Homo sapiens: one gene and its partners. The protein of the gene in region 1 interacts with the protein of each later gene in a pairwise test. Each region holds a gene or a part of one and is shown on either strand. Other genes may lie near its edges.

Region 1 (9,140 bases):
AAGGTGGATAGCAAGCTGATGACTCCCACTCTGGGTCAGTGTCAGCTCAAAGAGCTGGAAGAAATTCAATGCTGGTCCAGTCCAGCTGGATCCCATGGGCCCTAGAAACCTCCCATTCTGGCACAGCCAAAATGTACAGTGTCTTTCCCAAAGGCTCCCCTATTCGGCTCCCTCCGCCTGGGTTCTGATAGATTGTGATGAAGTGAGTAAGGGTAGGAAGCTAGCGTCTGGTCCATCAGAGAGCCTGGGTCTTGGTGCTGAACCTCTGCTGTGTGCCAAGCCCCTCCCAGTGTGCCACATGCCTCACCCCCAAAGCTTCCCCTCCCTATTTTCCTCAAATGACTTTTCACTGAACTTCAGTCTATATCCCTCTTTTCTTCCTCTCATTTCTCCCTGGACATGGCATCTGGCTCTCAGACCTCCGCAATTCACCTGTCCTGGCTCAAACACTGCCATCAGCTAAACTTGGGCTTTCCCCATGTTCTTTTGCACAGCACCCTGTCCTATCCTTCATCATTCTCCTGCACAGTATCTATGTGGGATGTTCTGTCCAAGACCAATATTAACTTCTGTGGAGCAAGATCCAGAGATTCTTTTGATTCCTTTGATATTTAGTCATTGCCTCCTTGGAACCCTTGACATTGAATGACTCCCTTCACACCTCTTTCTCCCACTGTAGATTTCACCTCCTTCTGGGGCCACCCCTAAGGCTAACAAGGTCCTAAGCACTTCTATTTCACATCATATTAAGCTGCAATTCATTGACTTCTACAGCTGCAATGATTATCTTGGGCTAATGGCTCCCAAATGTAGACTGCACATCCCACTTTACCTCCTGCAGCCTACAGGACAGCCCACTTTGGACATCCTGCTGATATCCAACCAAATATATTTAAGGTTAAGTTAATTATCTTCTCCTCCCAGCCCACACATTCCTCCCAATTTCATTTCTCTCACTGTCATAATATTCCTCTCACCAGTGATATTCAAAACCTGAGACTCATTGACAATATCTCCTACTTCTCCTGACTCAGTGTCTAACTTATCAAGTCCCTACAGGTTATTTCTTTAAAATATAACTTTGTGTTTTTAATTGCCATTACTACTGTACTTGTATTCCCGGTTTTTCTGCCTTTCATTCATTCCAACCTATGTGAGGAATGTGGACCCACGTTCTAAAGATTTTTTTCACCACATCCCTGCCCAGCTCTAGAATCTACAGTGACTGACTGTTTTGTCACCGTCTGGCACTGATTTTCTTGTGTGATAGCATCTCACTTCTCCATGGACACTAAACCACACCTCCTGGCGACATAATTCCTTTCTTATCTTCTCAGTGGACGTACTCACAGGTGTCCCATTGTTCTCCCTGCCTCAAAAGTCATCCCTTCTCATTGTCATCCATTCAGATCTTTTGATATTAAGATCACTGGAGATAGTATCAGTATAGATGGGTTCAGTATCTAGTTCTATCAAATTAATTACCAGTGTAGAGTTACAGCTTAGACATACAGGGTTATGTCTTTTAACCTCCAACCCTCAGTTTCAGCACTATACATTCATGGGATTAGATTATGTGGTTATGAAGGTTCTTTCTAGGCCAAACTATTTATAATTCCATGACTCAGAGTTTAATGAATCTTTCCCTTACTATTGTAACTCTACTCTGAACTCCTATTAAATTTTACTGTATTATTTATTGTTGTACATAAAGATATTTGTTTCCCTTATAAAAGTTTATAAGATCTTGAAGTCATGAAGCATGGCTTACAGCTCACTTGAAGCTCTCTCCAACCACCCTAATTGAACTACCCTGGTCCTTGTGGCCAGGACATAGAAACACACAGAGCAGACTTTGAATAGAAAGGCTGAGTCCTAGACCTAGCTCTGCTACCAATTTATTTTGCCACCTTTTATCCCTGGGCCTTCAACTTATCAACATTGGATGGAAAGATTGAGTAAGGTATCTTTCAAAACTGTTTTAAGTTTCACAATAAAATTTTATGCAGAATTCTAATGATTGTAAAAAGGATAAAGGGCAGCTGCTTTGCTGACACAGGAAGCAATGGAGACTTTGGAACCCTGCTAGTATTTCTCTTGCCTACAAAGAAGACACTGAGGAGCTACCAAGGAGCACAAAAAAAAAAAAAACGAAAACAAAAAATCTCTTAAGCTTCCACCAAACACGGTTTGAATACCATTGGCCCAGATGGTTTCTTTTGAGATTACTTTCTAAAGTCAGTTGTTCTAAGTAGTTCAGAAATCTTGATTTGGCTTAACCTATTCCTTCTCCTCAAATCTCTTTATGTGCTCCTAAATGTTTTTGATGTCCCATCATGTCATATGAGGGGACTACCTTGTTACCTAGACAGCTTGCCAGGAGGAGTGAAGGGATAGAGGGCATACCAGAGATATTGACAGGAGAGAGTAGAAAAGAAAGAAAAGAGAGAGAGAATATTGCCTGTCCATCACTGACCTGCAGATCCTGAGTTCCTGGAACCCTGATCCCTGGAGACTCCAACTGATTTCTCCAGGGCATTGCGCTGTGTTTATACCGTCTGGTACAGGTGGGTCAGGCCTGCACCAATCTCTATAATTGGCTGCAGGACATGAAGGAAGAAGAGCCTGGGCATTTCACAATGTCTTTGGTACAGCATGAATAATAAGATGGTGGGAACATTAAGGAGCATTTGTTGAAGGGGGAGAGAGTCATCCATAAAGCCTTGGCAGAAATAAGGTATGGGGCCCCTGCTCTGTACTGACTGTCGTTGACTATGTTATTAGTGGGTTTGCAGCCAGATAAACAGTGCTGGGGTCAGACATCTTTGGTGCCCCGTGGGGCTCCATCCTAGGCTTGAAGAGGTGGTGAATACAAGAGAAAGTATGTCTGGCAAGCCCAAGGACAGAACAAATTCTGATGCCGGAATCCAGGCTGTGGCCAGACAGCCAGAATAAGAGAAGGGGCTGATAGCACTGTGAGTGTGACTCTGTTTGGAAAGACGAGAAGGGAGTCTCTGCTTTTCAGTGGGTTTAATTAGTTGGTACCAGCTTGATGGGACAGAACATCTAGGGAAACCCAACTGCAAAGATATTGACCTCAGATTCACCCTGAGACTGAGCAGACATCATGTGCCATGGACTGCTAGGAAATATGATAGTGTGAGTAGAGCACAGAGGAAAGAACACTCAGGTCTCTAATTGACATTACTTGACTCAGTCCATCCATCCATCCATCCACCCGGCCACCCATCTGTCCATCTATCTACCCATCTGTCCATTCTTCCATCCATCCATCATCCATCCAACCATCCATCCACCCATGTGCCCATCCATCCACCCTTCTGTCCACCCTTTCATCCATCCATTCATCCATCCATCCATCCATCCATCCATCCATCCCTCCATTACAAGCGTGGAGAAGCTTAGGTGTAATGTTCTCTGGAAACTAACAACCTTATTATAATTCTCCCTCTTTGGTCATTTGCAAAGTTCCACCAAGGGCTTCTTGAGGAAGTGGGATAGGTGGGTCTAAGACTCAGATGCCTGCAGGATGAGAAATGAGAAAAGATGGGCAGAAATGGGACCAGATTTCTGCTTTCTAAGGCCAGTGATCATTCTTCTTCCACTCTCCCAATCTCTCACCCTTCTATGGGAAGGCTTAAAGCATGAGTTACTATGTCAGGCAACCAATGAGTGTTTACCCAGCATTTACACTGCTGTGTGACACAGACATTCAATACACAGTCCTTGTTGTTAAGTAGTTTCACAGTCTAGCTGAGGAACTAAGTCATAAACACTTGAAAAGATAATTAAGAAGACCAGACTCTCTAAGCTGTGGGCCAAGGACATGTTGGAAACAATAGTGGCAGATAAGCTCCTTGGGCAAAAAAAAAATCTTAGAATTGAAAGGACTTTAGGCCAGGCATGGTGGCTCATGCCTGTATCCCAACACTTTGGGAGGCTAAGGCAGGCAGATCCCTTGAGGTCAGGAGTTCAAACCAGCCTGGCCAACATGGTGAAACCTCGTGTCTACTAAAAATAGAAAAATTAGCCAGGCATGGTGGCATGCACCTGTAGGCCCAGCTACTTAGGAGGCTGAGGCAGGGGAATCACTGGAACCTGGGAGGCAGAGGTTGCAGTGGGCCAAGATGGCACCACTGTACTCCAGCCTGGGCGACAGAGTGAAACTCCATCTCATAGACATGGAATCATAGTTTCCCTCCAATTGGAGAAATCTGTGCTATGGCATCCCTGAGAAATTGGTTAATTAGGCTCTGCCTTAACATCTCCAGGGTCAGGGACCACACAACCTCTTGAAGAAACCCTATCAATGTTTGTGGTCCTTGTGGTTAAAATATGGGGGTCATATAGGAAAAACAGCCTCCACATAATTTGCACCCATTGGTTCTGCTTGTGTGTTCTGGAATTACACAGAACAAGCACATTCTTCTACTTGGCAAGCCTTTAAGTGCTTGAAGAGGGCTCCCTGTGCATTGCTTTTTTCAGGATAATACCTCCCACATCGTAGCCTCTTCCCTACAGCCTGCCCTTGGAACATTCTCTGTTCCTCGATGTCTGCAATTTGTACAAACCCCACATGATGTGAGTATTGCATCTCTGTAAATACAGGTCCAGGCCAGTGATTTATACCAAAATTGCAGAAATCTAAAGCCACTAACTCTTTTTCACTTGTAGAGTCATGATGTCCAGCCTGTACATTCCTGAAGGAGGCATTTTATATTCCTTCTTTTACTACTGACTTGTGTCGGCTCATCATGGCTAAAGCTCTTCTGAGTTCTGTCATCCTACAAATGAGGAAGCAACAAATTCAGGCTGGAGAAACCTTCAAGAATGAGGTGGAATTTAAGCTGCTCCCTTAGAGGTGGGCCTGTTTAGATGGGTGGAGGAGAAGGAGAGAATATTCCAGGGTGGAGAAATAGTTTCTACATTATATACTCATTGGGTTTCCATTATGTGCCAAGCATTATGCAAGGTGCTAAGAGACAAACTTATATGTCCCTAACCTTAAGGTCATCCCAGGGGCCACAGACTCCAAGTTAAGGTACTACAGTGCAGGGAGGTGCATACAAACATTGCCAGATCAGATAGCTGGGGGTGTCTCAACTCAGTAAAAGCTTCTTGGAGGAGGTGACATCTTAGCAGGGTATTGAAAGATGAGAGATTTATCTAGGCAGAGAGGATGGATGGAGGACCCAAAAGCAGAGGGAGCAGCACAAGACTGTGTCTGGGCCCATGGACAAAGAGAGTGTGAACAGGGTCTGAAACACAGCCTAGCATCCGGAGCTCATGTTCTTGGCAGCCCTGAGAGGCCTGGGGTAGGAGCTGTGCTGCCTGTTGCCTGAGGACTTCAGCTGAATCTGGGCTGGAGCTGTGAGGTCCATAGAGGCAGCCTTGTCTGTCCTGGCCACCTCCTTGCCAGTGCCTCAGTGGACTCTCAACCACCAAGCTGGTCCAACAGGTGAAGTGCAGGTGGAATACCTGGGGCTCAGATATGGGCTCCTCCTCTGGCTTCTGCTCCCATTCCCCAGGGTTTGGGTGGGGACACTGGAGTTCATTCCTGGCACATAGGACAAGAGGATCTCAATCTTGCAGAACCAGATGACTCAACAAATGCTGTATTATTAGCTTTTAAATAGAATATTTGGGTAAATGAAGGATAGTTGTTCATTGTGAGAAAGAAAATAAAAAATATTGGAGAAAATTGCAATAATAAAACAAATGCATTTGTTTCTCTTTCTCTGCATATTATTTATCTATTGCTGCATAACAAGTTAGACCAAAACTGAGCAACTTAAAACAACAAACATCGATTATCTCACAGAGTCTCTGCTTCTAGGTTCACTAATGTGGCTGTGGGCAGGAGACTTCATTTTTTACCACGTAAGTCTCTTTATAGGCCTGCTCATAGCATGGCAGCTAGCTTCCCCCAGAGCGAGTGAGCCAAGATAGATTGGGGGCGGTGGGTGGCAGAGAGAGAGGGCTCAAGTAGAAGCTGCAGTGTCTTTTATAACCTAATCTTGGAAGTGGCATGCCATCACTTCTGCCATATTCTATTGGTCACAAAGACAACTTTGGTACATTGTGGGAGGGGACACACACAGAATGTAAACACGAGGAGACAGGGATCATTTTAGCAGCTGTATTAGTTTCCTAGAGCTGCTGTAACCAATTATCCTTGGTGGCTTAAAACAGCCGAAATTTATTCTTTCTTCGTTCAGGAGGCTGGAAGTCTGAGATTAAGGTTTCAGCAGAGCCGTTATCCCTCTAAAGCCTCTAGGGAAGAATTCTTCTTTGCCTCTTCCAAGCTTCTGATGGTTGCCACAATCCTTGGTGTTTCTTAGCTTGTGGCTGCAAAACTCCGATCTCTGCCTTCATCTTTACATAGTCTTCCCCGCATCTCCTCTGTCTCTGTGTCCTCTCCTTTTCATACAAGGAAACCAGTCATATTGAATTTAGGTCTACCTTCATCCAGCATGACCTTGTCTTAACTAACTACATCTGCAGAGACCTTATCTCCAAATAAACTCACAGACTGAGATTCCAAGAAGGATGTGAATTTGAGGGGGACACAATTCAACCAGTACAGCAGCCTTCTTAGAGACTGGATCCAATGCCTTGGAATCCCAGGGGCTGTGATCCTTCTAGGAAAGAATTACCAGATGATTTTTGTTCTTTAAGTTCCTTACCCAGAGATTCCAGCCACACAAACTCAGCACAGCCTCCTCCTCAGTGGCTTTGCTGAGATCTGTTTCCTGATCACTACTACAACCAACCAGAGCAGCAGAGCTCGATTCAATTTGAATTTACTCTGGGGAAGTGGAGGCTGAGGACAATCAGAGATGATGTCTACTCTGCTTACCTCAAGATTAATTTCTTTTCTTATTTTTATACAAGGAATTCATCTTCATTGTAGAAAAATTAGGAAATACAGGTAAATTAACAGAATTAAAAGAAAAATCACCTATACTGCCACCACCCTGACATTGCTACAATTGAAGTAAACTCTTCCAGACTTTTTTCTATAAAGAAATATATAAATAGGTATCTTTTAATTAAAATAAATTGCAATATATGCCACTTTGTAAGTAGGTCTTCTCAATATGTCATGAGCACTTTTTCATGGGAATAGAGACCAGCATCTGGGATTTTGATTGTATCTTGGGTTTTTAAAAGAGGATCAGCATACCCTACTTATCTTTTATCTTCTGAGCTCGAGCCATTTCTTCTGACATCAGCACCTCCTCATGCCCACAACAAGATGATGAGGGAAGAGATAGGAAAGGTAGCATATGACAGTGGCAGGATTAAAGGGAAGGAGGTGGGGCTGGGCCAAGGGCCATAGATCCCTGACTCTATGACCACCTCCCTCTCCTGCATAGTGGTGAGTGACAGGTCTTCATGTGGAGAGCTACTGACCCTATAAGGCTCAACTGGGGATGGGTTGGCCTGCGGGGCTCAGGGTAACACTGGTCAGTTACCATTAAGCAGGAATGATTCCCACCACTCCCCCACCCCACCTCCACAGAAATCTTTTCATGTTATTCCCAGTTTACCCCACATGGTTTTTACAAGATTCCACAGCAGTAGCACCATCCAGTGGGGGAGGACCGTGGACTGAGCTCCAAATCTCAGAATTTATCCAAACTGGGAACCAGAAGACAAAGTGGTCAGGTGCCCACTAAGTCAGACGTGGGGGTCCTGAGAGCAGAGAGAGTGATTGTCCGCCATGGGTCTCCTCCACTCACCCCTCACCCGAGCTGGCTCTGCCCAGGGAGTTCTGGGGGGCACGTTGCCCTAGTCACACTGCTGGAAGTAGAAGTCTGTGATGGGGGCATTCCAGCCACCATTCTCGGGAAGCTGGGTGAGTCTGACAGGCTGATCGGCTTCAGGCACCGTGCACAGGAACCAGCCCGGGTAGGCAGCCGACTCGAAGCTGGAGGTGAGCCCCATGTCCCGCCGGTAGAAGGTGAAGCTCTTGGATTCCTTGGCACCAAGATAGAGCTCCATGATGTTCACTGGCTGCCGGCAGAGGAGGGGAGGTCAGGTGAGGGCAGAAGCAGGGGCAGAGGGAGGGCTGGGCAGGATCCTTAGGGAGGAGGCAAAGCTGCCATCAACAGAATCCTGCTAGGGTGTCCCACAGCACCAGGGCTGTGGGCTGCCCGGCTTCAGTAGGCTCAGCATCTGTGGCTGAGTCCCCAGTGAGGATGCCCCAAGTCTCACCTCTAGTGTTAGAGTCGGCTCCTGCCCCACCCCACATGACAGGCACTGGCTTCCACCCTGGACACCCAGGATGACGGGGGACAGGCTGGCATCCAGCCACCGATTGGGGACCACGCTGATCTCTTCACCTGTGGGAAAGAGGCCAGATGCAGGGCCCTGGATGCCTTTCCCTCCTTCTTCCCCTGTCCTGGGCTCTAGGGCACAGGACTGCTGTAAGACGGCCTGCCCCCAGGCTGGGCAGAAGGGAGGCTTCTCAGCAGCTGTCATGACATGGCTTCTCCTGTCCACTGGCTCAGAGTGGACATCAAGGCATGGAAGCACATTGTACCACCTCCACTCCACCCTCTAGTTCAGGGTCAAATCTTCAAGCCTCTACACCCCAAAATAGATTCAACCCCCTCCTTTAATGTCCCTTGGGTCTCAGGCCTTTTTCTGAACCCTGTCTTGATAAGCCCCCCTTTGGAATTGTTTGGACAACTTTCTACACCCTGTGATGTTGCTGAGAGCAAAAGAGGGTCTCATTCCTCTCTGTACATCCCCTCACCACCCACATACATCAGATACATACATACACAGATACATGCATGCACACATATACATATACACACACATGCTCATACCTACATACCTGCACTCACACATACATGGTTACACACAGATACATGCATGCACACATGCTCACACATATATGCCTGCATGCACACATACATACACCAGTAAGCACACACATACACATATGGCCTAGCTGAAGGATCTACCTGGCATCTGTGCTCAGCAAGGGTGCCCCAGGTGGGCAGGTGCAAACTATTTTAGAGAGGGACGTGTTGCAGTGCATGGGGCAGAGTGAGCAAGCAGGAGGTCCAACAATGCCACCTGTTCTCTGGGTCCCTCCACTCTAA
Region 2 (12,695 bases), on another chromosome or scaffold:
GTTGGACAGTCTTTGCCTCTAACCGTCACCAACACTCATGGGGTAAGTAGATGCTGTTATAAGGATGCCCATGCAACAGGTGGGAAACCTGAGCATCAGACAGGAAAAGCAGGTTACCCATGGCCACACAGCTGGACTCGGACTGGAAGAGAGGATGAGGGGCCCTGCAGGCCAAGGACAGGATGCTTCCTAGGGAAGGGGGCCCTGCTTGTTCAAGACATTCTCCTCCACCCCTTCCCTCCATCCCCATCACTCAGGACTGAAACTTTTGCAATAACAGCATTTCAGGGGCTTCAGCAGTGAATGGGGGACCACAGCTCCCCACTCCCTCCCACTCACACACAGAGTGTGGGGACTCCTCAGCCTCTGCAAGGGCCACTCTCTCACTCAAAGAACAGAGTAAAGGGCCTGGCTTTCCTCGTAGTCTGCAGGGGACTGGCCCCTCTATGCTGAACCCAGGGCCCCGTGAGGCCCCGTGCATTCAGTCACACACACTAGACTCTAGTTTCATGTCACCACTTTACTTTTCACATGTATAGCAGCTCTCTGCATCTAGGCTGCGTGCTCTGTGAGGGCAAGGATCCTCATTGACAGATACCATTTTTCCTTCCAGGGAGCCTTGGGCAGCGCTGGGCAGGTAATGTGAGCTGTGATACCTACTGACTGATCAGTCTGGGAGGGTGGGGCATGGCTCTGTTCACGCTGGCCACAGGGAGTGTATGACTTTGCTGAACTTTTTTTCTGCCTGAGGCTCAGTTTCCTGCTATTCTTGGTCTGTGTCTGTCTCCCTGAGGGCTCCAGGGCTGGCACCCGGTACGTGCCCTCCTCCCACTCTCACCTCTGCTGTGCCTGTCCCTTAAGCTGGAAGCACAAGCAGGAGAACAGCAGGGGCAGCCTCACCCAGAAGGCAAGGGGCAGCTACCTGACATTCCTCTCCTCTTGGCTGCTGGGGAGCCTAGGGGAGATGTCACGGTCTGAGGATGGAGGAAAATGAACTCACATTGTCTTTCTGTCCCGAAGGAGAAAGAGGGTCTGCCTAGAACCATGGAGACCCTGGGCCAGGGCTGCTTTCAGCCTGGGGAGCTGCTGGGTATGTGTGGGCAAAGCTGCCAGCACAGGAGGGGACTGTGGCCTTTGGGGCTGCCCTCCGGTGATCAGAACCCTTCTAGGGGAAGCATGGTGATGAGGGTTGGTTCACTCTGCATTTCAGAGGGAGGACCTCAGGCCCAAGAGGGGACAGGGATCCAAAAACCCTCCAGCTGCTTGGAAGGTTCAAAAAGGGGTGTGGACGCATCCACATCAGCAGGAAGTAGTAGGAAAAGTCACCAGGGAACACGTAAGGATGAGGCCGGGAGAATTTTAGCATGCAAATGGGTAGGATGGCCCGTTTACTGATCAGCTGCTGCCTCCTCCTTCTCCTCCATGTCACAGGAGCTCTGAGGCCGTGCCTTCGCCTCAAGCTCCCTCTCTCCAGCTGGCTCCACGTGAGGCTCCTCTGCCAGGAGGTACTGGGCCAGCTGCTCCAGGTGCTCCAGGCTTATCTTCTGCAGGCGCTCCTCGTGCTCCTGCCTTAGCAGCTGCAGCACGGCCTTGGCATCCTGTGGTTCAAAGTGTTTAGCTAGGACCAGTCCCAGCTGGTGCCACAGGGGCTGGGTCTGCGGCTGGTGGGCCTCCTTTAGCGCCATCTTCTCCAAGGGCTGCATGATGACATTGATAGAGGCATTGGGCCCAATGCAGTAGTCAGAGAGGTGCTTGTCATCCTCCAGGAGCTGGCCACGGAAAAGCAGGTGCTGCTGCTCCTCAGGCACCTTCAGCCGCCTGGACACCAGTCTCTTCAGCGTGGCTACACTCTCTTGCCCTGACACCTTCAGACTGCATCTCTGGCCCAGGAGCAGCTTGACTGTGAGGAACATCGGGCTGAGTGGAATCAGGAGGGATCCATGCTCTGGGAGCTGCCCTGAAGATTAGGGGGTCCTGCGGGAGATGTTGGCTTCTCCCTATCAACAAAGGGCTAGTAGTCCCAGGAGACCAGGGACCCAGCTTAGGCAGGCAGCCATTGGCTAGTGCACGGTGATGTCACAATGCTGCGGGGGGGCTCATTTCCAGAGTGGAACTTTTGGGACAGCAAAGGGGTATTTGGGCCCAGAGCATCCTTCCTCCACGAGAGGAGAAAAAGAGCACTAGGAAAGAAAATGTGGGACTGGGGGAAATGAGAGTGAGACTAGGGAAAGGGAGGGAGGGAAAGGACAGGGTGGTGGGAGGAGCATGTCTATTGATTTCTTCAACACATGTGTATTAGGTGCCACCTCTGTGCCAGCACCTGGACCTGGGGAGACAGTCATATTCAGATGGATGACTTCTGCCTTCATGACACTTTCACACTAGTGAGCTGGCTAGCATTTATCAAGCGTCCTCTTTCTGTCAAGCACTTTACACGCTCTTTTGGATTGGGCTTTCCAGCAGCAGACACTGAGACAGGGATTTGAGAACAAGTACTCAATTAGGAGGTGATCCCAGGAGGCACCAGGAGGGGAGTGAGGATGTGAGATGAGGACGGGAGGGAAATCAAAACGTGCATTCATGAGCAGGTTGCCATTGTGGGCAACTAGTATGTTATCCTGCTGGGGAGTTCTGGGAGGTTGCATGGAACACACCTGAGTTGCACCAGGTGTGGTTTTTTTGTTTTTTTTTTTGTTTTTTGAGACAGGGTCTCACTCTGTTGCCCAGGCTGGAGTGCAGTGGCATGATCTCGGCTCACTGCAACCTCCGTTTCCTGGGTTCAAGTAATTCTCCTGTGTCAGCCTCCCAAGTAACTGGGGCTACAGCTGCACGCCACCATGCCTGGCTAATTTTTGTATTTTTAGTAGAGATGGGTTTCTCCATGCTGCCCAGGCTGATCTCAAACTCCCAGACACAAGCAATCTGCCTGCTTTGGCCTCCCAAAGTGCTGAGGTTACAGGCGTGAGCCACCGCACCTGGCCGAACCTGCATCTTTATGCTCTGACTCCTGTCTTTGGCTAATAGAAGTGCTACCTCCTTGGCACTTCTGGTCCACAGGTGTTAAGCAGCATGCTCCTGTGACCACAGAAAAGTAGGAAGCCATCGGGCCCTCAGGAATGTGAGTGCTGAGGGGATGGGGCAGGACAGCCCACAGCATCTGCATCACAGGCCTGCCTAATTGAATCCTCTCAACCTATGAGGCAGGCACTGCCATGATCTCCATCTGCCAGAGGAGAAAGTGGAGGCTTGGCTGATCCTACAGCAAGCAGGCAGAATTGCTCTTGTCTTCACTGTTACCTCATGTTGCCTCCTAAACAAATCTCTGCTCAGTGCCTTTTGTGGCCCAGGCCCTGAGCAGGCACCCCCGGCTCAAAGGTGAATATGAAAAAGGACACTGATTGGGCCTCCTCTGTGTCTGCAACTTCTGCAGCATTTGGCAGTTTTCAGTGCAACACATTGCTGAAGGCCTTCTGGGTCAAGCCCTTTATATATGTTGTCACAATTTAGCCTGGGAGGAAAGTATTGTCTCATTTTAGAACTGAGCAACTTTGGAGAAGACCTGAATAACGTCTCGCAGCCAGTGGGCTGATTTTGTCAGGGATCCCCTCAACTCTCACCAGCTCTGTGCTCGACTGTGCCCTTCTTCTCACTCACCTTCTCCCTCCCTCCCACCTAACCTCCTTTCCTTTTCCACCTGCCTGGAAGCTACAGTGGCATGATGCTGTTGTCAACATCCTTGGACTTTCCTGAACTGCCCTTCCACAGCACCCAGCCCTGAACTCCGCCCAAAGGTGGCTGCAAGCTCTGTCCCTGTCTTTGGAAGCTGGCAGCCAAGAGCAGCTGGTGAAGATACCCATGGGGCCGGGCGCGGTGGCTCATGCCTGTAATCCTAGCACTTTGGGAGGCTGAGGCGGGCAGATCGTGAGGTCAGGAGTTCAAGATCAGCCTGACCAACATGGTAAAACCCCGTCTCTACTAAAAATACAAAAATTAGCCGGGCGTGGTGGCGCGCACCTAATATCCCAGCTACTCGGGAGGCTGAGGAAGGAGAATCGCTTGAAACCGGGAGGCAGATGTTGCAGTGAGCCGAGATCACTCCACTGCACTCCAGCCTGGGTGACAGAACGAGACTCTGTCTCAGAAAAAAAAAAAAAGAAGAAGAAGAAAAGAAATATCCATAGATGCCACAGACTCAGCAAGCCCTCACCCCTCACCCCAGCCCCATGTTCACTCTTGCCGGGTGACTCATATTCTAGTCCATAGGGAAACTAGAGCTCACAAGTCAGGAATTCCCTGACCTTCCGTCCCTTCCTCACTTCCTTCCTCCTCTCCTTTCCCCCACTAAATGAGCCCCCTTGTTATTTCCCTTCTTCCCTGAAAATGTCTCCGAAACCCACTCCTCCTCCTCTGCATCCCCACTGCCCACCGGTTCAGGCTGTCAACTCCCTCCAGCCCATAGTTCATCTCCTCCACCAGTCCCACCGCCTTGGGTCCATTCATACCACAGCCAAGGGGATCTTCCCAAAATAAAAGCAAGGTTGTGTACTCCTCTGAGTAACACCATCCAGTTTAGTTTCCTCTGCTTTTGGAATCAAAACTGACCTCCTTGGCCGGGCTCTGCTTGTCACCCAGCCTCGTGCCTCCCCACTTGGCATCCTCCACCGTAGCCACACCAGTCTGCGTTTCCTCTACTTGCTTGTCCTATTTGAACTCTTCCAACTCATCCTTCAAAACTCAGGTTAATGCATGCCTATAGTCCCAGCTACTTTGGAAACCAAGGCAGAAAGATAGCTTGAGCTGAGGAGTCCAAGACCAGCCTGGACAACATAAGAAGATCTTGCCTCTAAAAAAAAAAAAAAAAAAAAAAAAAGAAAGAAAGAAAAAAGAAAAGAAAAAAAAAAGAAAGAAAAAGAAAGAAAAAAATTCAGGTTGAAAATCACCTCCTCCATGAAGGCTTCTTTGCTCTCCCCAGCCCTGGGAAGAGATAATCCCACCTCCCTCCATGCAACCATTGCTCCCCTTGAACTTACTTACGTGAATGCATCTAGCACACCTCATTAGCTCTCAGAGACTGGGACTAGGTCTTCTCTGCCTTTGTGTCCCACGCTTCCAACACAAGCCTGGTACACAGAATGCCTTGAATACCCGCCTGTCAAATGAAGAAGATAAAATTGAGACACATTGAGCCATCCAGGGGCATGCAGGGCAGGTCCAGTGCAGCAGGCTGTGGAAAGACATAAACCCGCCTGCAGCCTCTCTCTCACCCCCACCTCCTGCCCTAGAGAGATGAAAATACAAAATTACATAAAAAATCAATCAGAAAGTGAGGCCAGTCTTTACCAAAGGATCTTCTATAGCATTTCTTTAAATAGCCAGCTCCCCTGGTGCATTTGAAATAAGATAGAATTTGTAAATGTACCTGTACATACAGTGTGGGGGAGACCTGTGGACTCTCTTACTGCAGGGCCTCTCTGCAGAGGGAGCAGGGGGATGGATGAGGTTTCTCCTTGGCCATGTGGGCACTCCCAGCCTCTAGAGGGGAGGACTCAGTGGTGGACAAACCATCAGATGGACAGGATTGGGGCCACACCATGGGAGATGTCCTGAGCAAAGCAGAAAGATGAAAATCAACTGCCTGCCTCCAGCATCTCTTCCTCAGACCCATCCACCCAGCCAGACACTGCCCAGGACACTGGAAGCCACTGAAGAAGACATATTGGGCCTGGGCTTCTAGAAGCACATGAGCACCACAGCTCAGGCTTTGTTTCTCCCAGACCAGCGGCTGCGTGCAGGCAGGGGCCCTTGTGACTGGGGCTTAGAGAGTCATATCTGCTGGGCCACACTTTCTAAACCAGGCTACCTGTTCTAGAGAGTCCTAGTTGGGCCATGAAGATAGAAGCTTCAGAATTAGTGGTGCCCAGAGAAGCCGAGAGAGATGGTCACTACCCAGCTGCTGTGTCTGTGCCCAGGAGACCCCATTGCCTTTCCTAAGGGGGACAGTGGGGGCACTTTGCTGGACCCTCAAATCACATTTGGAGCCTGGAAATTTTATGTTTTCCCATGTAATTGCTTGTGATAATTATGCAATTAGCATTAGAAAATGTAATTGTGTAATCGGAGCATGCAATCAGACAATGATTGCCATAATTAGGGGGGAAGATTATTGGGAATGAGTGGGTCTGGTGACTTGGGGAAAGGAATCAATGTGTGCAGACAGTGCTGGATAGTATTAGGCTATCTTGAAAACAACTGCAAATGCAATTTGTGTCACTGGGAAACAAGCACAATGTCCGGCAGGGAAGATGGATGGGCGTGGGAGGGTGCTTCGGAACAGGTCTGTGAACATCTGGGTTCCTCAGAAGCCCTTTGCAATCTCCTGAGCAGACGGACTGGACATTGAATGCTGAGGGTGTGAACTCCTCAGGATAAAAGCCAAGTGTCCAGCTGCCGGCCTGGGGCCTGCCTTGAGCAATCCTGTTCCTTGAGCCCCATTTTCCTCCTCTGTCTAACGGGAGTGTGGTCACTGCCCAGCCTCCCTTGCAGGGTTGCTGTGAGGGCCAAAATAGGTAGGCCATACCCCCAGGACCTCACACAGCATCCAACCCATGAAGACACCCAGACGTATAGATTTAATTGATAAATGTAAACGGCAGCTCTTACTGTCACCCCTCGACAGTGAATGAAGATCCCACTGTGCCTAGAACTGTGCCCAAAGTGTGAATCCCCACAGGCCGGGGTGGGCCCCACTGCTTGCACAGGTCGGCAAGCAGAGGCCTTTGCTGACTGCTGAGAGGGGCCCCAGGAGGTGGGAAGTTCACAACCACTCCCAGGGGCCACAGGAAAGGCTCATATAGAAGATAAACTATAGCCTCTGCCCACCTCACTCCCTGGAAAATGATGAAGTTATTGCACTTTAATGATGTCAGGCTGGCCTTCCAAGGAAGGTGCCTGGGATGGAGCAGAACCTGGGGAGACAGAGAAGGAGAGCAAAAGCAAGACAGAGAAACGGAGAAGGAATGGAGAATAAGAAAGCCGAGTGTAGGAAGTGCTTGGAAAGGGGTGAACAGTGGAAGGGACACAACGGAAAGGGGATGGGATAAAAAGTGCAGGCAGGGGAGCAGCACCAGGGAAGAAGGTAGAAAAGGAAAGAACTGGGGTGGGCGCGGGGTGGGAGAAGCAGGAGCATGAAGGGACAGTTCATGCAAACCAAGTGCAGTCAGTAGCGCTACAGGCCTCCCTTCTAAGAACACAGTCCTCCCCGCTCTCCTTACAGTCTGCAAATGGTTCACGGGGAAACTTTGGTAGAGAAAGTGGAATCTGGGAAGCTGAGAGCACAAAGCTGTGGTCCCCAGCATAACCTGCTGCCTCCAGCCCATATAGCCGCATCACTCAACAGTGTGTCTCGAGCGCCCATGATGTGCCTGCACCTGCAATGGTGAGGTGAAGACTGGCAGGTCACCAGACACAGCCCTGTGGCAAGGGCTGCCCCAGGCCCACCACTATGCTGCTGGAGACCCCACTCAGCCTGTGCCACCTCCTGTTGCTGTCATCAGGGACCTCTTACCCCTTTGAGGAAGAGGGCTGCTTTGTGCCCTGTCAGGCCTAGCATAGGACAGGACCGGCAGCTCTTTAGGTGGCCCCTGACCCAGGCTGCCCTCCATAGTGCCTGGCACATAGTAGGTGCTCAGTAGGTATGGCCCACTCCCTGCCTGTCATCCACTGGCTGGCATTGGCTGTCTCAGCAGCTGCACCAAAATGGGTTTGGGGCTTCTCCCATGAGGGCCCTAAAGCCTCCTCCCTTCCCGGGTCTCAGGGAGCCGAGGCCCAGGTGAACCTGAGCCTGGGGCCTGCAGGGCCAAGGAGCTGGAGCAGGAGGAAGGCAGCAGATCTCATGGGGCCACAGGAGCCCAGGGGACATCACTTACAGTCCCAGCCCTCTCTGGCTGACAGTGGGTAGTCCAATATCTGAAAGGCCTCAGTCCTCACACCAGACAACCTAAGTCCTGCCCTGTGCTGGTGTCCCAGAGCCCTGGAGAAGTCAGACACTGGCTGGGAGCAGATCAGAAACCTGGCTCCAGAGACCACATGGAACTCACAACTGCTGGAAAACCTCACCGGGCTGTAGCCTGCTGTGACCACTAGATGTCACTGGTGACCTCACCAGCCAGTCCAGCAGCTGACACCAACCAAGCCAGCCTGGGGCCTGGGCACAAGGTCTCACGTGGAGACCAGCCCCCTCCTCCTGCAGATCACCAGCCATACTCCTGCCCTCCTCTTCGGGGTCGTGGTCTGAGCACAGACATCGCCTGGCCCTGAAGCAGGAACAGGATAGTAAACTTTACTATGGAGGCAAAGAAGTTCTAACTCCAGCAGGAGGTGGGCCCTGATCACAGGCTTCACCTGGGAGGGAGCTTGGGTGGGTGTGAAGGAGGAACAGGAGTTGCCCTGATGAAGAAGGATGCCCTGACTGAGGGCCCAGCACACGCAAGTCCATGTGGAAGTGTGGGACTCGGTGAGCTGGAGTGCAGCAAAGGAGTGAGAGGCGAGGCAGTCAGGAAACAGGCAGGGCCGTCACCTTCACAGAAGAGCTCTTTCCTGGAGCCAAGACTTCTGCATCCCTGCAGGGCACAAGCACAGGAGTCCCCAAGGAGCAGCCCACAGCTATCACTCACTCTGTCTTACACACACATGCACACGCACACGCAAACGCACGTACACACATGCCCTGCTAACCTAAGCTGGGATCAGCAGGGGGCTTTCTTTCCCACACTGTCTCTGAGCTCCACTGGGGCTCTCGGAACACCAGGACCCCAGCCAGTGTTATGGTGCCAAGAGTGAGTTTCTCCCTCCCTCATGGCCTTCTCTGGTGTGCCCTGGAGGAGACACTGCCCATGGTGTGGCTGGTGGCCCATCATCTCTGTTAAGGGTGCTTTAATCATGATCAACACAGGGGCATCTCCTGTGCCCGTCTGCACTCTGGGCTGTGTGATTTCAGCTGGCAAAAAGTAGTCTGCTTCAACCTGTAGCTGTGGGACTGCCATGCATTTAAACATACCAAACAGGCTGGGCGTGGTGGCTCACACCTCTAATCCCAGCACTTTGGGAGGCCAAGAGGCAGATGGCTTGAACCCAGGAGTTTAAGACCAGCCTGGGCAACAAGGCGAAACCCCATCTGTATAAAAATACCAAAATTAGCAGAGCATGGTAGTGTGTGTCTATAGTCCCAGCTACTGAGGAGGCTGAGGCAGGAGGATCGCTACAATTTTATCATCCTGCCTCAGGATGATAAAAGTGCTGGGATTATAGGCATGAGCCACTGGCCTCCATGTGGTTCTTGAGTACTTTTTTCCCTTTTGTTTCCTCTTAAAGTGCTTCCTGAAAAATCTACAATTTTATCTTGGTTGCAAGAATAAGGAAAAAAAAAAGATTTCTTCCCATCTAGGCCAGATTAGATGGAGAAGCAGAGGGCCTCCTGGGCCAGGCAGAATGGTAGCTATATTCTGGACATTCTACAAAGGTCCAGCTGAGGGCCTAGACTTGGCAGGCACCCCCCCTGGGAATGGCTTTGATAAATGTTCCCCTTCCTACAGGGGTGACTGCTTCCTTGAAGATCTGTGTCATCAACCAGAGCGACAGGAACCCTCCACCACGTGGCAAAGATCAAACACGATGCATTAAAAGCCAGGACCAAGAAGGGGCCCACAAAGCCCTGCCCTGAACACCTCCTGCTCTTGCTGGTCTTGCAAGTCTACAGCCAGGTGTGGGTGGAGAAGCCAGTGGCCAATCTAAAGATGCTGCCACATGGATCGTGCAGGACCAGAGAGAGTCCTTGTTGCTCCTGGCGAGATACAAAGGCTGGTCTTTCACCAGGGCAGCTTGTGCTAGCCTTTCAGCCTGACTCTTGGCCTAAGGGTGCTAAGGCGAGTCCTTGGGTGAGATTCCTGCTAACAAGACCCCTTCTGTCAGTTGAGGAAAGCAGGCTCCTGCCAGAGAAGATGACATGGAACAAGCTGCATGACATCTGCCCCAGAGGAAGCCAAGACCAAAATGAAGGAACAAGGGAAAAAGAGTGAGAAAGCTGGGAACAGAGTAAAGCTGGGCTTGGGGGAACTGAGCTACCTGTAAGACAGATCTCTGTTAGGGGAAGAGAGACTAAACTACAGCTGAACAGAACAAGGGGCTAGTAAACTTGGATTTGACTTAGGCTTGATTAACCCCAAGGAAGTCCAGTTGGCAGGTGGGATGTTGGGTTAGGGTTACAGTTAGGGTTGGCCTATTATTTTGTTTGACTTCCTGCTCCTCTAGCTGGTAGCACTAGCCACATGCAGCCACTCATCAGAACAAGCTGGAGCCAAAAGCAAGAGGGAGAATATTTAAATCCAGCCAACAGCTGATTGGATGGTCCCATGAGCAGCATGGACTGTATGGAAAAACGGGTCCGATCAGGGGCTGCCTCAAGCTCCATAGCAGACCATCAGAACTACTTCAGTGGAGTCATTCCTGGTATCAAAACCCAAGTGACTACCTGTTGGACCAGCAGCCTCATATCCTAGCTGATGGCCATCCCAGGGGTCACCAATATGAGCTTCTGCCCTGAAGTGCCTCTTCCACTGCAAGAATATCACACTGGACTGACTACCTTTTGTACATTAAGTTTATTACCTAATAAATGCTCCTAGGACCCACAGACAAGTCACCCCATTACTTTCATTAACAGGGACCTGATTAAGAGTTAAGTGTCTTGGAAGGGACAGGACTCATGGTAAGGTGGGAAGTATAGAGCATCTGGCACCAGAATTGGGGGTGGTAGGGGCTGGCAAGAATGTTACGTGGGGTCTTTGCCCTGGAGAGAACTAGAGAAAGACAAGAGAGCCAGCTGTCAGCCCTGCCTCTCCTTTGGCCTCTCCAAAATACTGCCTCCCTTTGTCTCCCACCCAGCAGAAGCGTGGACCCCAGATTCAATAACTGCTGGCCTGAAGCTATCTCTGGCATTTGCAATTGGCCTGAACACAAGGTACTCAAAGGAGGCCTGAGAGGCAGTGGGCATGGGTCAGGTGATGGGTGGGTCTGGCTGAATTGAGGCTGAGGGCCAGTCCCACAGCCCAAGCTCTTGGCACCAGGTTCCTGGCAGGATGGCAGCTGCCCATCAACGCCAGACTCTGTTGGGAGTGGTGCATCTGCAGTGATGTCCCAGAGGCCAGGAAACAAGGTGGGAGAGTCATGTGGGGTGGCCCTGGCCTCCCTCCCTGCCTGCTGGTAGCCCAGTTGGGAAGGAAGAAGAGCCCTCCAACCAGGATGGGGCTGCAGGGAAACAGAAATTAGCACTCTGCCTCTGGGTCCTGACTAAGCTTATGTGCCAGGCATTGAGTCTTCAGAACTGGGACCCTCCAGCCCCTTGGCTGGGCAAAGGCAGTTGTCACGGCCAGACCGGATTCTTTACCAGACAGGAACCAACGGCCCTAGAATGGGATCTGGTAGGAATCACATAGGTTAACAGATAGGGTCTTCTGTCCAAGCTGCTTCAGGGTCTCAGAGTGGTCAAGGCAGGAATCTCCAGAGCTATCCAAAACCACCGTGCACCCCCTCAAGCTCCCACTTACACCTGACCCCTCCCCTACTTCTCTGCAAGGGGTGGCATCTGAGTCTGGAATGACTAAGAATTACATTTAGGGAGAAATTTCTGATATAAGGCTGGGGATGTTGCTTCCTGCAAACCAGAATAGGTGACTGGATGGTCCTGCCGTAGCCTAGACTGGGGAGTCACAGGCTGTGAGTCGTGGATTGTCAGAGACAACGGCGAGCTGAAAAAGCAACCCCCTACCACACCCATCAAGAAACTGGGGCCCAGAGAGGTGACTTGCTAACTTCATGCCTATTGGGGAGGGGTTTACACACCAGCAGAGCCCTGGGGAGAATGCTTTCCGGGAGAGGAGCTGGCCCAGAGCCCAAGGAAGTGAAGCAGGATGGCCGTGAGGAGCCAGGCATGGGGAGTGGTCCCCAAGGCCCCAGCTAAGTTTCTGGGCCCCAGATGAAGAGTGAATCGCTGGTTCTCCTTGGAGGGGAGTAGTCAGTCACCCTGTAAAAGTTTATTTTTATACATGTCTGATGTATTTCACATCCGCTCAGATATTTTGACACACACACAGGAAATGTAACTCTCCCCCATATGGCAGTGTTTGGTTGGCCGGACCTGGGGAAACTCAATAGGGTCACAGAGGAGCAGAGGGGAACTGCAGCATCAAGGAAGAATGCCAAAGGCCTGAGGCCATGATGGGCACTCCTGGCCGGCAGGCTGGAGACGGAGGTCACGGTGAGGCCAGTCCTCCTGCCTGGATACAGAGCCCTGTATCCAGTCTGGGACCCCAGACTTAGGAGGCCAAGTGTGGCTCTGGTTGCTGCTCCCCAGGAGGGAGGGGAGATCCCTATGAGGATGAAGAAGGTCCGGAAGAGCAGCCAGAGTGGGCCACCAAGGGCATGGGCTGCAGGACAGACAGAGACACGCAGGCCTGAGCGACAAAGACTGGGGCGCCTCTGACATCAGCTGGGAGCAGGGATTTTCTCCATGTTCCAGCATCCCAGGAGGAGGAGATCAGGGAACCTACAGCTCAGATGAAATAAAAGCACAGGGAAACAGCTCTGGGCTGGACCCCACCTGGCTGGAACTTTCCGCAGTTACCCAACTTCCTTGAGCCTCA
Region 3 (10,437 bases), on another chromosome or scaffold:
AGAAAGGAGGGAGGGAGGGAGGGAGGGAAGGAAGGAGCTCACAGAAAAGGGTCCATAGGGTTGGAATCAGGGATTGGGAACAGGCGACTGGATTTGTTCCTAAGTTTGCTGATGACTTACAGAGTAACTCCAGGATAGTCCTTCACAGCTCTGTGCCTCAGTTTACCTCATAGACTTCACCAGTGGGTTGGGTCAGCTCCCTGCCCAACTCTAAAATTATTCCAGCTGGGCACAGTGGCTCATACCTGTAATCTCAGCACTTCAAGCAGCCAAGGCAGGAGGATCGTTTGAGCCCAGGACTTCCAGACTAGTCTGGGCAACAAGACTCTGTCTCTACAAAAAATAAACAAAAATTAGCCAGGCATTGTGGCACAGGCTTATAGTCCTAGCTACCCAGGAGGCTGAGGTGGGAGGATTGCTTGAGCCCAGGAGGCCAAGGCTGCAGTGAGCTATGATTGTGCCACTAGACTTCAGCCTGGGTGACAGAGCAAGACCCTATCTCAAAAAATAAATAAATAAATAAAATTATTTGGCTGGGCGCAGTGGCTCACACCTGTAATCCCAGCACTTTGGGAGGCCAAGACGGGCGGATTGCCTGAGCTCAGGAGTTAAGACCGGCCTGAGCAACATGGTGAAACCCTGTCTCTACTAAAAATACAAAAATTAGCCTGGTATAGTGGTGCATGACTGTAATCCCAGATACTTGGGAGGCTGAGGCAGGAGAATCACTAGAACCTGCAAGACGGAGGTTGCAGTGAGTCGAGATCACGCCACTGCATTCCAGCCTGGGCAACAGAGCAAGACTCTGTCTCAAACAAAAAAATATTCAGGCCAGGTGCAGTGGCTCACACCTGTAATCCCAGCACTTTGGGAGGCCAAGGCAGGAGGATCACTTGAGCCTAGGAGTTTGAGACCAGCCTGGGGAACACAGCAAGACTCCATCTCTAAAAAATAAAAAATAAGGCTGGGCGCAATGGCTTACACCTATAATCGCAGCACTTTGGGAGGCCGAGGTGGGTGGATCATCTGAGGTCAGGAGTTTGAGACCAGCCTGACCAACACAGTGAAACCCCATCTCTACTAAAAATACAAAAATTAGTTGGGTGTGGTGGTGGGCGCCTGTAATCCCAGCTACTCGGGAGGCTGAGGCAGGAGAATCGCTTGAACCCGGAAGGCAGAGGTTACAGTCAGCCACCGGGATTGCAGCATTGCACTCCAGCCTGGGCGACAAGAGCGAAACTTCGTCTCAAAAAAAAAATAAAAACTAAAAACCAACCAACTTTTTAAACATTATTCCAACAGCATTTTGCATGTAAAAAAACCAACAAGACGTCACCTCTCTTCTCACATTTATTTATTTGTCCCCCTTTCTCCTTCCCCCCATGTTCCTCACACTGTCATCCCCACCTCAGGGGAACAGGGTGCAGAGACGGATCCCGAGGCTGAACCCGAGCTGGAGCTATCCGACTACCCATGGTTCCACGGGACACTGTCCCGGGTCAAGGCTGCTCAACTGGTTCTGGCAGGGGGGCCCCGGAACCACGGCCTCTTCGTGATCCGCCAAAGTGAGACTCGGCCTGGGGAGTACGTGCTGACCTTCAACTTCCAGGGCAAGGCCAAGGCAAGTGTGTGGGGGGCGCCATGGGGGTGCAGTGGCCAGCCCTGAGGGAGAGGGGTCATGGTGACCCCGGTCCTGAGGCTGTGCCCTGGAAGCAGCTGCAGGCGAACAGGTGTGGCATGACTTCCCACGGGCCCCACTCACCCCAGCCATGCTCCGTGAGCCACCTGCGTCCCTCCTACACATCACTGAGGGACTGCAGTCAGCCCTATTTCAGCCTCTGCATTCTCCAGAAGGGGAGGCCACCTACTGGCGGCTGAGCCCTCAGGAGGCTGGGCCCTTCTAATAACCCAAATTTGCAAATCCTTTCAGCTCCTGCGCGCGGGGGATCTCATAGCACTGGAGCTTCGGAGGGTCTCCACCCAGAGATCGCCCAGTGGGGGGTGGGAGCCAACCAAGGCCCTCAGAGCCCCACCTTCTGCCCCACCGACCTCAGACAGCCCCTCTTCCCTGCCCAGGTTAGGTCACCAACCCCTGAGGAACACACACGGGCAAACCCTAGAGACCCAGCAGGGGAGGAGGAGCTGGGCTGGGTGGGAGAGCTGTGCAGGGTCTAGGGGGTGGGGTTCAGCATTGGAGGGGACAGCCTGATCAGAGACCTGCAGGGGAGGGAGAATTGTGGAGGGGAAGACAGTCAGGAAGGCGATCCCAACAGCACCCAGCTGGATCAGAGGCATGATGGTACACCCAGGCGGTGTGCTTTCAAGGAAGAGGATTCCTTGCTATATTGACCTGAAATGCTTTGTTTTTGTTTTTGTTTTTTTTTGAGACAGTCTCGCTCTATCCTCCAGGCTGGATTGCAACATCGCAATCTCAGCTCATTGCAACCTCCGCCTCCCGGGTTCAAGCGATTCTTGTGCCTCAGCCTCCCAAGTAGCTGGGATTACAGACACGTACCACCACACCTGGCTAATTTTTGTATTTTTAGTAGAGACAGGGTTTCACCATGTTGGCCAGGCTGGTCTCAAACTCCTGACCTCAGGTGATCCACCCACCTCAGCCTCCCAAAGTGCTGGGATTACAGGCGTGAGCCCCCACGCCCGGCCTATTGACCTGAAATTCAAAGGAAAATTTGACAGCAAAGGCAAATGATTATGGGGGGGTGCAATGTGGCCAGAGGGGGCAGGAACCTCAGTGCCCACCCCCGCATCCCAGGTTTCCGATAAGGAAACACTCAGCCTGGGCTCCTGCCAGGACGGATTTCCTGGCGGCCCCTACTAGAGGAGGGAGAACCTTAGGACTCCTGCTCCAGGCCTGCAGCTGGGGGACAGTGTCTCTCTGCAGGGACCCCGGCTGCCCTAACCCCTAGTGGCTCAGTGCAGAACCTCTGGTGGCTTCTCTCCTCCTCCAGGTTGGCCCCACCATGCAGGAGGTAGCACCTCCACCAGGGACATTTCCTTGGCAAGCAGCCACCCTTACAGTTCCTCCGACAACCAGGTGCTTAAGGCCATCCCTGGTGACGTGCAATTTACTTCTCAGCCAGTGCTGCTCCAGGCAGCCTCCCAGAGGGCCTGGATCTGACTCATGCCCAAGCCAGAGGCTAGGATGGGGGAACAAAGGGTGGGTGGCAAGCTCCTCTCCTTCCTGGAACAAGACCCAGCCTTGAACCTGCCTCTCACCTCTCTACCCAGCTGCTCTTCTCCCAGAGTGGAGATGACTGCCCCAGGCCTGATAAGTAAATGGTGGGACAAAGCAGGAACCCCAGCCTCCAGCTTACATACCTCCTGGGAGGGAAGATCACTACCTTCCCAGAGGCAACTCTTTCCACCTTCACAGAATAAATGTCTGGAAGGTCTGGCAGAAGATTGGGATGCGTCCAACTTGCTTCTTCTCTCCCCAGGGACCCAGCTGTGCCCTGCGCAGGCTCTGCCCAGCTATGAGGCTGTGGTGGGACCCCTCTGTGCTGTTTCTTTCGGGCTGAGTCCCTGCATTGTCCTAGCAACTTATTCTGCTAAGTGGCAGAGCTCACTTGTGGGACCGCCACCCCGCTCCAGGGATTGTCTGTATTTTTTTGTTTGTTTTTTAAAGGGTTGGGGGGTATCTCACCATGTTGGCCAGGCTGGTCTTGAACTCCTGACCTCCCGTGATCCATTCCCCTCAGTCTCCCAAAGTGCTGGGATTACAGGCGTGAGCCACCACACCTAGCAGATTGTCTGTCTTTTATGCAGGTGGCCAGACCAGCTCCCCCTCCTGGGCTTGGGGCTATGCGTGTACCCTCAAACCACTCCTCTTAGCTCCCCTCTTGCCCCACACACCCCAGAGATAGCCACTTGTTTCTGCAGTGGGATACATGTTGAGCAAAATAGGGCTTAAGTCAGAGACCTGCAGCTCTCCACTAGACACCACAGGCCTATGGTTTCTTACCCTGAGGCACCTGCCTCACACAGGCCCTAGAGACCTAGAGAGAAGCCAGCCCTGTTCCAGCTGTTCCCACAGCGTGCGGTCACTCCTCCCCAGCCAGCCCTGGGGAGCTTTCCATGCCTCCGGGTTTTGGCTCTGCAGGGACAGAGGGCCAACCTCTAGCCTCCTGGGCTGGGGGAACCACCCAAACAGGAGTTTTCTTCCCTGCTCTGTGCTCTGTGACCATGGGCCAGTCACTCCCCCTCCCTGGGCCTTGGTTTTCCTATCTCTAACATGGGGGCAGTAATCCCTATCTTCTGGCATTAGGGAGGGGATTAGAGATTATAGGTGTGTAGGGCATGGGCCCATAGTGGAGGTGCTCCCAGCATGGGGACAATGCCTGATGCCTTCCATCTCAGCCTGGGTCCGTTGCCCCCATTCCCCATCTCCAGATGGGGCTCATGTGTGAGGGGCCCCCGGCCCTGACACAGCCCCATACAGCCCCTGTGAGCCTTGGTCCTTCCATCAACCCCCAAAGGCGCTTACCCAGGTGCCCAGCCCCGGACCTGCCCCTGACCACACCCACCTGTACCCACAGCACCTGCGCCTGTCCCTGAACGGCCACGGCCAGTGTCACGTACAGCATCTGTGGTTCCAGTCTGTGCTTGACATGCTCCGCCACTTCCACACACACCCCATCCCACTGGAGTCAGGGGGCTCGGCCGACATCACCCTTCGCAGCTATGTGCGGGCCCAGGACCCCCCACCAGGTAAGATGCCGCCACCTGGCTGGTGTGATTACTCAAGAAGACTTCCCGTTGATTACTCAAGAAGGTGGTCCCTGGGGTGGGATGAGCCCCAGGTCTCCTGTCCCATAGCCTCAGCCGTGTCCCTCCCACCCTAGCCTAGCCACAGCAATTTCAAGCAGTCACGTCATAAGGAATGGAGGCAGAAGTGGCAGCCTAGAGGCAGCCAGGTCCCTAATGATTCCTGGCAAGGGGAAGGGGGCGCCCAACAGCAGTGCAGGTGGGTGTATGGGGGTGGGGACAGGGGTGTGGATTGGGGCAAGTGGGATGAAAGGAGCTGGGCATATGGATTCTTAAGCCCTGCACTGGGGAGGCTCAGAGCAAAGCTGCTGGGACCGAGCACTAAGGGCATGGGTGCATGTGCATGCGTGTGCTTGTGTGTGTGCATGAGTGTATGTGTGCATGTGCCCGTGTGCGTACGCTTACGTGTGCGTGTGTGCGCATATGCATGAGCGTGTGCATGCGTGCATGGGCACGCGTGTGCTTGTGTGCCTGTGTGCGAGCGTGTGCATTATGTATGCGTGTGTGTGCACTCCTGTGCATGTGGCTATATGGGCGTGCACACGCGTGGTTAGGTACATGTATGTGTGTGTGCTTCTGTTTATGCATGTGGGCGGGTGTGCTTGCATATGTGTCCGAGGACATGGGCTGCAACTCGGAAACCTGAGCGTGGGCCCTGGCCCCTTGAGGGATCCCGGCCTCCCTGCAGGATGTGGCCAGCCCAGGTCCCCACTCACGCCCTGCCGTCGCCTTGTTGCAGAGCCGGGCCCCACGCCCCCTGCCGCGCCCGCGTCCCCGGCCTGCTGGAGCGACTCGCCCGGCCAGCACTACTTCTCCAGCCTCGCCGCGGCCGCCTGCCCGCCTGCCTCGCCCTCCGACGCCGCCGGCGCCTCCTCGTCTTCCGCCTCGTCGTCCTCTGCCGCGTCGGGGCCCGCCCCCCCGCGCCCCGTCGAGGGCCAGCTCAGCGCGCGGAGCCGCAGCAACAGCGCCGAGCGCCTGCTGGAGGCCGTGGCCGCCACCGCCGCCGAGGAGCCCCCGGAGGCCGCGCCCGGCCGCGCGCGCGCCGTGGAGAACCAGTACTCCTTCTACTAGCCCGCGGCGCCGCCCGGGTGGGACACGCCAAGCTCTTCAGTGAAGACACGATGTTATTAAAAGCCTGTTTTAGGGACTGCACCCGGCTCTCCTGTCGTCCTTTCTCCCACGGGGAAGGCGGGGACTGCGGGGCAGCCACTCTCAGAGACACCCGTCCATCAGGGACCCCCGTCCAGCCCAGTGTGGCCTGACACCTGCCAGGCCCCCTTGCAGCTCTGTCTCTGGTGGGACAGCTGAGGGACTCCCCATGGGGCGTCGGGCAGCACCTGAAAGAGGGCCCAACAGCAAGGGTTAGGGCTTAGGATCGGGAGGGGGCTTTACTGGAGCTGTGAGGGAGAGAGATGGGAGGTGGTAACAATGAGGGGTGCTGAAAAGAGAGGAGGGGGCATTCAGGACACAGTGAGGGATGGGGAGCACGCCCAAGTCATACGGAGAGCTTGGATGCCAGGAGGAGGAGTCGAGGCCCGGACTGGGAGGGTAAAGGCGTTTTTAGACAGATCTATGAAGCCTGGCGGTGTGGACAGGGCGGCAGGGCAGGAAGAAGCCTGGCGGTGTGGACAGGGCGGCAGGGCAGGAAGAAGCCTGGCGGTGTGGACAGGGCGGCAGGGCAGGAAGAAGCCTGGCGGTGTGGACAGGGCGGCAGGGCAGGATGTCTCCATATTAGCCCTTAGGGGATTGGGCAATGGAAGAGGCTGGATTTCCCAGCTCGGTGGTAGACTTAAACTTGGAAGAAGCTTAAAGAGCCCTCCCACCCACCGCGCTCCACCTCATTCACACCCAGCCCCCACCCCGTCTCATTCCCACCCCACACCTACCCACAAGTGGAATTCCAGCTGTGACTCCCATGACCCCAGGCTCTGGAGACACTGCTTGCTGGCAGTCCCAGGACCCCAGTCCCCAGGCAGTGTTCAAGAAAGATCCTGTTCCTACTAAGCCAAACCTCTGCCTTCCCCACAACACCCCAGACCTGGGGTCACAGACCCACAGTCCCCTTGCCCAAGACTGGCCTTGCAGGGCTTGGGTCAATGATGCATCCATCTATTTTTCTTTCTTTCCCCTTCCTTCCTTCCTTCCTTCCTTCCTTCCTTCCTTCCTTCCTCTCTTCTCTTTCTCTTCTCTTTCTCTCTTTCTTTCCTTTTCTTTCTTTTTCTTTTTTGAGACAGGTGCAGTGGCACAATCTTGGCTCACTTGCAGTCTCAACTTCCCGGGCTCCAACTATCCTCCCACCTCAGCCTCCCAAGTATCTGAGACTACAGGCGTGCACCACCACGCCTAGCTAATTTTTTTTGGTAGAGACAGGGTTTCACCATGTTGGCTAGGCAGGTCTCGAACTCCCGAGTAATCCTGGGTGGGAGGCGATCCACCCACCTCAGCCTCCCAAAGGGCTGTGATTATAGGCATGAGCCACTGCACCTGGCCAATGATGCAGATTTCAGATCCCTAGACATCTAAAGCTCTCAGGACTGTAACTAAGACACAGCCTCTTCCCCATAAAAGGGGCATGAACACCCTTGGGTGGCTCCCAGGGCTTTCAGCCACCCAGTCCCCATGCACAACATCATCAGGAAGTGACAGAGTAGGGCCCCCTGCTACCACCATGATGAGGGAAGAATACAAATTCAGCGATCAGGAGAGCACCCTGCTACCTCTGCTTCTAGCACCTTCATTCGGTTGTGGCTGGAGTCCTTCTGCCCCCGTGCCCTGGTGGTTTGGGGTCTATGCTAGGCCAAGTGCAAGTCCCCATTCCACTCCAACAAGAACAGAGCGGGCTCTGGACTGAGGCTTGGGCTGGGCAGACGAACAGGGGCAGACTTAAGACTTAGACCCACCAGGTGGGGGCAGTGGTTCACGCTTGTAATCCCAGCACTTTGGGGGGCCAAGGCGGGCAAATCATCTAAGGTCAGGAGTTCGAGACCAGCCTGGCCAACATGGTGAAACCCCTCCTCTACCAAAAATACAAAAAAAAAAAAAAAACTAGCCAGGCGTGGTGGTGCGTGCCTATAGTCCCAGCTACTTGGGAGGCTGAGGTGGGAGGATCGCTTGAACCCGGGAGGTGGAGGTTGCAGTGAGCCAAGATCGCGCCACTGCACTCCAGCCTGGGTAACAGAGGGAGACTCCATTTCAAAAAAAAAAAAAAAGACTTGGACACAGAGTGTGCAAGCCTTCAGGCCCTCCTGTCCTTTCCTCCTGATGTCGTCAGCCACAGCAGAGGCCACTCTCCATGCCGAATGCTCAAAACAGAATCAGCACAGAAGCAGGCAAAAGCACTGATTGACTGTCACCTTTGCTCAATGGGGGGCTCATGCACATATGCACACACATAGAGTATAAGACTGTGGGAGAGGGTCTGTGCCAATCCTAAGGGGGCAGGCGCTGTTCCTGGGGTGTTCCCAGGTTAAAGTGAATTCGGGGGGGGACAGCAGAAGTTGATACGGTGACTGCCCCCCCCCGGGCTCTCCCAAGGGATGCAGCAGGAAGGCCCAGGAGGTCAGTGAAAAGGGGGCTCTCTCTTCAGTATGGTCACCAGCGTGAGATCCTCAAGCCTGTCACTCAAGAGGGTGGTTCCAGATAGCCCAGACTCAGTGGCTCTGGCGAAATCACAGCCATTGCACAGACGGCAGCAACATTTTCAAGGGGGTTTCATTTGTTCCTCAACAAGCATTTCAGATGCCTGCTCTGCGCCAGGCCAGGCCCATGGGGTAGCTGAGCCAAGCTTTGGGACCACAAGTGCCCTGGCTGACCTGTGACACTGGGTGTCGCAGACATGGGGGACTGCAGGCGCAGGAGCAGCGAGGTGGGATATGAGACCTGCAAGGTAGAGAGAGCCTTGAATGCCAGGCCAGGGAGTTTGGAAGGTGCTGAGAGCCAGTGCCAATTAAAATGGGAGCTGAGATCACCCTGTGGCCAGAGGGTTGGGGCAAGGATGGATTGAAGGCGGCAAAATGAGGCGGGGGGCCAGGGAGGCTGTGGTGGGTCTGGGTGAGGGGCAAGGGGCCAGGGCAGGGCAGCAGAGCAGGAGGACAGTGACGGAAGAAAGATCACAACCGGGTGTGGTGGCTCACGCCTGTAATCCCAACACTTTGGGAGGCCAAGGCGGGTGGATCACTTGAAGTCAGGAGTTCAAGACCAGTCTGGCCAACATGGCGAAACCCCGTCTCTATTGAAAATACAAAAATTAGCCGAGTGTGGTGGCACGTGCCTGTAATCCCAGCTACCCGGAAGGCTGAGGCAAGAGAATGGCTTGAACCCAGGAGGTGGAGGTTGCAGTGAGCCGAGATCATGCCACTGCACTCTAGCCTGGGACACAAAGAGAGACTTGTCTCTAAATAAATACATAAATAAATAAATAGAACTGGCGTACAAAACAAAATCAAATACAGTACAATAAAAATCAGTTCCTTCTGGTGGGCGTTTCTGTTATATTTTTCTTTTTTTTTTTTTAGGGGGCATGGTGTGACCGTGCTTTCATGGTCTGTCTTCCTACTGAAAATCAACATCAATCGAGCTTCTGCCTTCCTGCTCCGGGGAAGGGTTTTTTGTCCTCCCTGAGATCACCTTAGACCCTATTGGGCACTTCTAACTTAGAAAAGTTCTAGCCCATTTGGGGTAGAAGAAATAAACTTCCTGCGATGGCGAGGGGCTCTTACATCCCTAGTATTAAGAGACAGCAAAGCAGCCAGGCGCGGTGACTCATGCCTGTAATCTCAACACTTTGGGAGGCCGAGGCAGGCAGATCACTTGAGGTCAGGAGTTCGAGACCAGCCTGGCCAATATGGTAAAACGCCATCTCCACTAAAAATACAAAAATTAGCCCAGCGTGGTGGCGGCACCTGTAATTCCACCTACTCAGGAGGCTGAGGCAGGAGAATCACTTGAACTGGGGAGGTGGAGGTTGCAGTGAGCCAAGATTGCTCCACTGCACTCCAGCCTGGGCAACAGAGTGAGACCCTGTCTCAAAAAGAAAAAAAAAAAGCAAAGCGATACACTAATGTGAATGTTGAGTAATGAATCTCATTCATTGTCCCCAAATCCTATATTTATTTCTTATTTATTTTAAAGAGCATCTTGATCTGTTGCCCAGGCTGGAGTGCAGTGGGGCAATCACAGGTCACTGCAGCCTCAATCTCCTGGGCTCAAATGATCCTCCCACCTCAGCCTCCCAAGTAGCTGGGACTACAGGTGGGTGTCACCACACCCTGCTAATTTTTAATTTTATTGTAGAGACCAGGAGTCTCACTATGTTTCTCAGGCTGGCCTTGAACTCCTATCCTCAAGTGATCCTCCTGCCTCGGTCCAAAAGCCTTTTTTTTTTTTTTTTTTTCTGAGACAGAGTCTTGCTCTGTCACTCAGGCTGGAGTGTAGTGGTGGGATCTTGGCTCACTGCAACCTCTGCCTCCCGGGTTCAAGCAATTCTCATGCCTCAGCCTCCCGAGTAGCTGGGACTACAGGTGCCCACTACCACGCCCAGCTAACTTTTGTATTTTTAGTAGAGACTGGGTTTCGCCATGTTGGCCAGACTGGTCTTGAACTCCTGACCTCAGGTGATCCACCCACCTCGGCCTCCCAAAAAGCTGCAGTTAC

The links.
Region 2: the proteins of IL36RN (region 1) and UBL4B interact in binary tests that used the Homo sapiens proteins (3 or more experiments, as listed by UniProt).
Region 3: the proteins of IL36RN (region 1) and SH2B2 interact in binary tests that used the Homo sapiens proteins (3 or more experiments, as listed by UniProt).

The regions. Positions count from the first base shown.
Region 1 is NC_000002.12:113,061,353-113,070,492, reverse strand, and holds the end of IL36RN (interleukin-36 receptor antagonist protein), read right to left. Parts: intron 8,370-9,140; coding exon 8,242-8,369; intron 8,041-8,241; coding exon 7,816-8,040; 3' UTR 5,749-7,815; downstream 1-5,748. UniProt on the Homo sapiens protein: Inhibits the activity of interleukin-36 (IL36A,IL36B and IL36G) by binding to receptor IL1RL2 and preventing its association with the coreceptor IL1RAP for signaling.
Region 2 is NC_000001.11:110,101,753-110,114,447, reverse strand, and holds UBL4B (ubiquitin-like protein 4B), read right to left. Parts: upstream 2,006-12,695; 5' UTR 1,914-2,005; coding exon 1,389-1,913; 3' UTR 501-1,388; downstream 1-500.
Region 3 is NC_000007.14:102,315,775-102,326,211, forward strand, and holds the end of SH2B2 (SH2B adapter protein 2), read left to right. Parts: intron 1-1,412; coding exon 1,413-1,621; intron 1,622-4,556; coding exon 4,557-4,728; intron 4,729-5,524; coding exon 5,525-5,856; 3' UTR 5,857-5,937; downstream 5,938-10,437. UniProt on the Homo sapiens protein: Adapter protein for several members of the tyrosine kinase receptor family. Involved in multiple signaling pathways. May be involved in coupling from immunoreceptor to Ras signaling. Acts as a negative regulator of cytokine signaling in collaboration with CBL.